2 linked regions of the Homo sapiens genome follow. The protein of the gene in region 1 purifies or fractionates together with the protein of each later gene. This does not show direct contact. Each region holds a gene or a part of one and is shown in the gene's direction. Other genes may lie near its edges.

Region 1 (4,053 bases):
CCCGCGCTACTCCCGGCTAATTTTTGTGTTTTTAGTAGAGACGGGGTTTCACCATGTTGGCCAGCCTGGTCTTGAACTCCTGACCTCAGGTGATCCACCCACCTCGGCCTCCCAAAGTGCTGAGATTACAGGCGTGAGCCATTGCGCCCAGCCTAAAGTCATGCGTTTGATAGAGCTGCATTTCACCCTCTTAAAAGGAAACTGGTGTGGCCACTTTACAGGTCATGAGCAGGACTCAGGTGTCCTCCAGGTCACACGGATGGTAAGAAAGAAGCAGGGCTGGATTTCATCTCAGATGATCTGGTTTCCAGTCATGCTGTTTTCCTATGCTTGTTACACCCATTTTACACACAAGTATGTATGTATGAGGGACCTCTTAGGTCCCTCATACGCCAATTCAGAGGGCAGGGTTTCGGGACAAGAGGCACACAGCAAATTGTACAAGTCCTGGATATTTGGCAAGTGTGCCACAGTTTGCAAAGCATGTTTGCAACTAACAGCTCCTCTATGCTGCCCACAGTGCCATCCGGATTCATCTTCAGGCTTTGTGGACCCAGCAGGCCCTGGCCTAGCCCTCTTCTCCTGCCTCACTTCCCTTCAGGTCCCCTGAGCTCCAGGCCAATTGGGCTACCAGCTCTTTCTTGTACATGTGCCCCAAGTTCCCACCTCTGAACTTTTTCTTAGAATGCCTCTCCTTCCATCTCACTCTGTACATATCTTCCTCATCCTTCAGAGTCTAGTTCAAATGCCTCCTCTAACGGCAAGCCTATCTGGATTGCTTCAACTGGAAGAGAAAGGGGAAAGAGAGAAGGAAAGGAATAGGCATTTCCTGAATGTTTACTCTGTACCAGGCATGTTATGTAACCTCACAACAACTCTGTGATATGGTTTGTTTCTGCCCCATTTTATAGGCAGAAATTGAGGGGAAATGACTCGCTGGAGCTCACATAGCTAGGAAGGATGCTTCTGGACTCCTCATCTAGTGCTCATTCTCCTGCTCTAGTCAGGAACCTTGTGGGGCTGATGAGGGCCAATATTCCACCTCTCTCCTTCTTCGTGGCTGATCCCTGGGGGTGGTGATCTGGTCCTTTCCCTCCCTGCTAAAGCCAGAGCTGCTGACGGCTTGCCATTGGCTCTTCAGCCAGGGCTGGCTTTTGTTTCTGTGGCCCAGTTGCTGAGTCGGGGCTTTGTCTCCCAGGGGCCCCTCTTCCCTCCCTGCCTATAAGAGCCCGACCTCGGCTGGTCTCAGATCTGACATGTTCCCTGGGCCTATCTCGGTAAGTCCCAGGTTTGGAGGAGGGGTGGGATCAGAGTTCTGAGTGAGCATTCTGGGAGGCGAGGAACCCAGGTCCCCAGTCCTAGGGATGTCACTGTGTCATCCTGAATGCCATCCTCATCCTAACCAAGGATGAGCCCCAACCATCAAGACCAGCACCTGCTTCCCTCATTTAAAAACAAATTATTCCTGTAGCCCTATTGCCTAAATTTCCACCATCAGAGCTACCTCTTTGAGCTAGGTGCTGTCTTTGGAAGGGCTCTCTTATGCTGAGCATTTCAGCACTCGCTGGGGTGATGCACCCACCCACCAGCAGCCACAAAAATTTTCCCATAACAAGCAGATAAGAGAATACAGAGTGGGGCTCAGAGTCAATGAGACCCAGCAAGGGTGAGTTTTGAGATGGGGATAGGATGGAAGATGGCATTGGTGACAGATGGAAAGGACAGGAGAGGGACAGGCCAAAGCCATGCATTGCCCCTAGCCCAGTCACTCCTGGACTCCCTATGTGGATCCTGACCAGGTCCAAGCCAGCCATCTGCATAAAGAGGAGAGCAGAGGGTCAGGGTGGAAGATTATAATGTTCTTCTCTTCTGCAGGAAGGGGCCACAATGACCCTGCAATGCACAAAGTCAGCGGGACCCTGGAAGGTAGGAAGAGGCATGGGGAGGGGGTGTTCAGGGGGTATGGGGAGGGTTCAGGTCCCCATGAATCCTAGGAGGGGGGCATTATAAATGCCTATTTCACAGAGGTGCAATCAAGGCTCAGAGTTGAGAAGGGACTTGTATGTCACATACAGGGAGGTTGAATGTGAATTTGGGTCTTCTGGTTCCCAAAGTTGACCTGTTACACTCTTTGGCAGAGGTTGCAGTCTTTGGGCATGATTTCTTTGACCATCTCTGTGTGTGTTTGTTTGTTTTATAAAGCTTTTGGATTTATCATCAGCCTTTAAAAGCCTGGAAGAACCACATAAAAGTCCAGATCTAGTGATTGTCTTGAGAAATTGGAAGGTCTGGCCTGCATTCCCACTTGGCAACCATTGGTGGCACTGGGAAGAGGCCACCCATTTACCTGGCACCTGTGCTGTCTAGTGTCTCACATTTATCACTGCTCTTGCCTTCCTGGCTCCTGGAGGAATCTGAGTTTGCAATCCCTGCTTTACCTGCCAGATCCTGGGGCGAGCCCCCAACCTCTCACCCTTCACGGGACTCTGATGCGGATCTCCACCTTTTTTTTTTCCTGGCACAGATGGTGGTGTGGGATGAGGACGGCTTCCAGGGCCGGCGGCACGAGTTCACGGCCGAGTGCCCCAGCGTGCTGGAGCTTGGCTTCGAGACTGTGCGATCTTTGAAAGTGCTGAGTGGAGCGTGAGTCTAGGGGGACACTGAGTTGGGGTAGAGGGTGGACAGGAAGGGACCTAGAGACGGGTGCTAGGACTTTTAGATATTCTAGGTCCCCTCTCCCTAGGCTCTTACTGTTGTGCCCTCCTGAAGTACTGAGGAGTGTGCAGGACTGCCATGTAAGATTATGCAGGTTGCGCACTGCCCAACAGTAGGAGGGTGCCATTTACACAGACCCTGCCCACTGGATGAGGCAGTTCTGCAGGAGATCCTTAGAATCCAGTGTTGGATCTAAAAATGTCCCTCCCAGCCGTAAATTGAAAGCCAACATCACCCGCCTAAAGTAGAAGGTAACTGTAAAAATAAACATAATGTTTTAATGCTATTAATTTTTAGCTAAATAGTCTTGCTGCTAAGCATGTGGCCTGATCATTTTTTGTAAAAAAAAAAAAAATTAAAAAACAAAAAAGAGAGTGAGAGAGAGAGATTAGTGAGACACAGAGAGGTGTTAAGGACACACTAATAACACACCAAGACTTTCTAGACCAGTGTCATTCAGTGGACCTGTCTGCAATGATGGAGATGTTCTACATCTACACCATCCATTTCAGAGCCACTGGCCAGATGTGACCATTGAGGATTTGAAAGGTAGCCAGCATGAGTAGAGAACTGAATCTTGTTTAATCTTAATTTATTTAAGTTTAAATTTAATTAGCTACATATGGCCAGTGGCTACCATATTAGATAGAAGGTTCTAGAAGGTTGGAAAGCAGGTAGAAAGGAGATGTGGCCAGTAGCTACCATATTGGATAGAAGGCTCTAGAAGTTTGGAAAGTAGTTGGAAAGATGTGGCCAGTAGCTACCATATTGGATAGAAGTTTCTAGAAGGCAGGAAAGTAAATAGAAAGGAGGTGTGGCCAGTAGCTACCATACTGGATAAAAGTTCTAGAAGTTTGGAAAGTAGATCGAAAGGAGATGTGGCCAGTAGCTTCCATATTGGATAGAAGGTTCTAGAAGGTTGGAAAGTAGCTAGAAAGGCAATGTGGCCAGTAGCTACCATATTGGATAGAAGGTTCTAGAAAGTTGGAAAGTAGATAGACAGGAGATGTGGCCAGTAGCTACCATATTGGATAGAAGGTTGTAGAAGTTTGGAAAGTAGATAGGAGATTTGGAGTCACTTAATGCTACACCTGTGAGTGCCACCTGAGGTCATCTTGGGTGATTTTTGCACATCTCATGCTTTAGTAAATACTCTTTTAGCTTCTGATTTGTGCAGGTGGGGAATGGGGGTCAGATGGGAACAGAGGCTTTCTAGGGGTATGTCCAGCAGGCTGACAGACTCAGCCAGTAAGCAGACAATGAGCTTGGATAGATTCAGACAGTTTATTACTTATACAGACAGTAAAGGCAAGGTGCAGCCTCCTGTGTCCCTTGTCC
Region 2 (3,500 bases), on another chromosome or scaffold:
TGCATACTTAATAATGTTAGACATGTAAATCAAGTAGCAATATGCTAGTATTCTGTAAACCCCCTGTGGATTTTGTCTCTCACCTAATGGAATTCTTGTCCCATTTTAATCTGATGAAAAAGGTCTCTAGTGGCTGCTATAAACGGCATGTCTATGAAGTGCCTTCAGGAAAACATCTTATGGATCATGCCGCTATTGACAGAATTACTTGGGCTACATGGACTAGGTAAATACTTATATATTCACAAGGCAAGAACTGACTTTGAAGGCCAGTTAGAAAATCCTATTTCTGAACTGTTAGAGCCATTCCAATAAGGAATAGTAATTGAGTTTCAAGTTTTTGTTACCATATTTTGAAATGGTATGTTCATGTTGGGACCCCTTTTTATTGAATATATTTCCATGTTTTATCAGTTTCCATGATTTATCAAGTTTTTTTTTTAAGGAAATCAAAGTTTTAACTTTAAAGATACCCTGATATTTTTCTTAATGCTAAATTTAATGACTGGCAAAAAGGTATTGGGTGCTGTTAAGCAACTGTTATTAATTCTCTATCTAAAGGAATGCTATCTTGAATCTATTAGAAGTCAAAGCTTCCAAATTTGTTCAAATTTCCTGGCTGTATGACAGGTAACCATGACTATCCATTTTTTTGGCCAATGAAAAATGCCATCAAATTCCTGTATCAGCCAGGCATATAGTGGCTCATGCCTGTAATCTCTGATGTAGCAGGCCGAGGTGGGAGGATCACTTGAGCCTAGAAGTTTTGATACCAGCCTGGGCAACATAGCAAGACCCCATCTCTGAAATTTTTTTAATTCCTATGTCATAAGTCATTTTTATTTTTGTAGAGATAGGGATCTCACAATATTGCCCAGGCTGGTCTCAAACTCTTGGCCTCAAGCAGTCCTCCTGCCTCAGCCTCCCAAAATGTTGGGATTACTGGTATGTGCTGCTGGACCCAGCCAAGTAGCACTTTTAATTTGAAAAATAGTTCTATCAGTTTTCAGTCAGGCGCGGTGGCTCAGCCTGTAATCCCAGCACTTTGGGAGGCCGAGCGGGGGTGATCACCTGAGGTCGGGAGTTCGAGACTAGCCTGACCAACATGGAGAAACCCTGTCTCTACTAAAAATACAAAATAAGCCGGGCATGTTAGCGCATGCCTGTGATCCCAGCTACTCGGGAGGCTGAGGCAGGAGAATTGCTTGAACCCAGGAGGCAGAGGTTGCGGTGAGCCGAGATCATGCCATTGCACTCCAGCCTGGGTAACAAGAGCGAAAACTCCGTCTCAAAAAAAAAAAAAGAAAAAATAGTTCTATCAGTTTTCATAAAGTACTACTTTAATCTTAAAAAGATTAATCTAGAAACCCTTCAAATTATAAAATGTCATTTTTAAAAGGCAGGAGTTGATATCCTGATGAAATTCAGGTCTCCAAACAACTTACCATAATTTACTTCCTGTATTTTAAGTAACATGATAGGGTACTTAGAGATTAATTGCCAAGAAACTTTTTGAATATAGTCAACCTGCCCGCACTTGCCATGATGAGTTTTCTTTTGTTCCTTCCCTCTAGTATTCTAGGAGATGAGGTTTTGGGAATCTGGTCCAGACATGCTGAGAAAGCTGATGTCAACTGTGCCTGTGTATCTCATTCAGGAATCAGTCTTGTTACAGGAGATGACTTTGGCATGGTTAAGTTATTTGACTTCCCATGTCCAGAAAAATTTGTAAGTTTGTGTTTTGTTTACTATTATCAGTTTACTCCTAATTTTGATGTCTTATCATCAGCACTTTTCCCCATATATTTAAAATGTTTTGTCCTAATTTCTAAATTTTTCCCCAAACTTTCTAAATCTATTTACTTTGAAATAAAAGCTATTAGAAACAAATCCTCTCCCTCGAGTAATACCATCTTTGGAACCATCCTACAAAAGCTGTAATTAGCTTTTCACCAAACCTATAATCAGTTATCAAATTTCAAATGCTTTTCCTTAGAGAAAAATGGTCAGAGTACCTGGAGACATCTGACTGCCCACACAGCCTGGTTTTGCAGATCCACTACTCATGCTGAAAAGCATTCTAATCACTGGCTGCGGTGCTAACTCCCTACTCTCTCCACAGCTCTTGTCATAGAGATTATAGTTCCTAATAAGAGCCTTTGACTTCTGTGTGCACCAAATGCCCTGAGCTTGTCTGTCATTGTTTTTTAGGCAAAACACAAAAGGTTCTTGGGTCATTCGCCCCATGTGACAAATATTCGATTTACCAGTGGTGATCGACATGTTGTTAGTGCTGGAGGTGATGACTGCAGGTTAGTAACTTTCTCAGCCCATGAAGAGCAGACTATGTTACTAGTTAAGAGACTTAATACAACAACTCCTACAGCTTTGGTTTATGAAATCAGCTAGTCAACATTAGTAGAAGGTAGTATAACCAGATGGCTCTTCAGAATCTCATATTTATGCAAATACAGAATAAAAGGAGTTAAAGAGGAAAAATATTACACATGTAACCTGAAAGCACAACTGAAAAATATTAAACTGTTATGAAAATCTAAAAACATAATTAACTCCCTGCAATTTTCTTCTCTGATTGCAGCTTATTTGTCTGGAAATGTGTACATACACCTCACTGAGAGATGCTGAGATGACTACAGAAATTAACTTTGAGACCAGAATTACAGAGAAGAAAAACCAAAACCCAACCCTGCATGGTCAAGTGGTGCTAACCCAAGACTGTAACAGGGAGAAATGCCCAGAATCATCAAAATAGTGAAAGACTGATCTGTTCAAAATATTTGCTATATGCACTGGGTATAATCCGTAATCCATACACTGCCAGATAATGCCATTTCAAGGAAGGATCGAATACTTGATGGTAAAGGCCAAGTCCCCCTGTATTGGGAAGTGTGTGATTTCGGCAGACCTGCTGGGAAAATTTAGGGTAGAGCACTCTTTACAGAAGAACTCAAAAACCCAATTTGGATAATTTTCATTATCTTTTTAGCAAAATGGTTTCTTAATGTTTATATTTTATTTTCAAGGTTCATTGTTTAATGAAATATTTTATTCTTGCATTTCCATAAGGAAAGGGAAAGTCATGATCATCCTAAAGGATCACAGTTTTTAAAAGGCAAACATTTTCCCTAAGGAAACAGACACAAGCTTTCCTAGAGAATATGATGTTTTTTAGGCATTAATAAGGTCCTTTTTTATAAAGGACACTTTTCTCCTAGTAGTTTTGAATTCAGGAACAGATCCAAAGTTAGCAGTATATGGCTGCTACATTTCCATTTTCATTTTCGAGCCATCAGTTTATGTTCAGATGCCATCTCTGTAATCGCACATTTAAAACATAACTGTAGCCTCACTAATGGAAAAGTAGTATGATGAACAATCATTCCCAATGGTGTACAATGTAAGGGTTTTAGGGAGCAACAGTATTTAACTGGAAGAAAGAATTGCATATTTAATGTAGTCTAATATATACACATTTGTTT

The links.
Region 2: the proteins of CRYBA4 (region 1) and EML5 purify together in Homo sapiens (affinity purification with mass spectrometry; 2 studies listed by BioGRID and IntAct, with this or other methods). This does not show direct contact.

What each region holds. Positions count from the first base shown.
Region 1 is NC_000022.11:26,620,710-26,624,762, forward strand, and holds the start of CRYBA4 (beta-crystallin A4), read left to right. Parts: upstream 1-1,253; 5' UTR 1,254-1,277; intron 1,278-1,875; coding exon of another isoform or gene 1,876-1,887; coding exon 1,888-1,926; intron 1,927-2,524; coding exon 2,525-2,643; intron 2,644-4,053. UniProt on the Homo sapiens protein: Crystallins are the dominant structural components of the vertebrate eye lens.
Region 2 is NC_000014.9:88,614,954-88,618,453, reverse strand, and holds part of EML5 (echinoderm microtubule-associated protein-like 5), read left to right. Parts: exon of another isoform or gene 1-122; coding exon 123-226; exon of another isoform or gene 227-1,574; coding exon 1,575-1,728; coding exon of another isoform or gene 1,729-1,941; exon of another isoform or gene 1,942-2,211; coding exon 2,212-2,312; coding exon of another isoform or gene 2,313-2,409; exon of another isoform or gene 2,410-2,599; coding exon 2,600-2,636; 3' UTR 2,637-3,500. UniProt on the Homo sapiens protein: May modify the assembly dynamics of microtubules, such that microtubules are slightly longer, but more dynamic.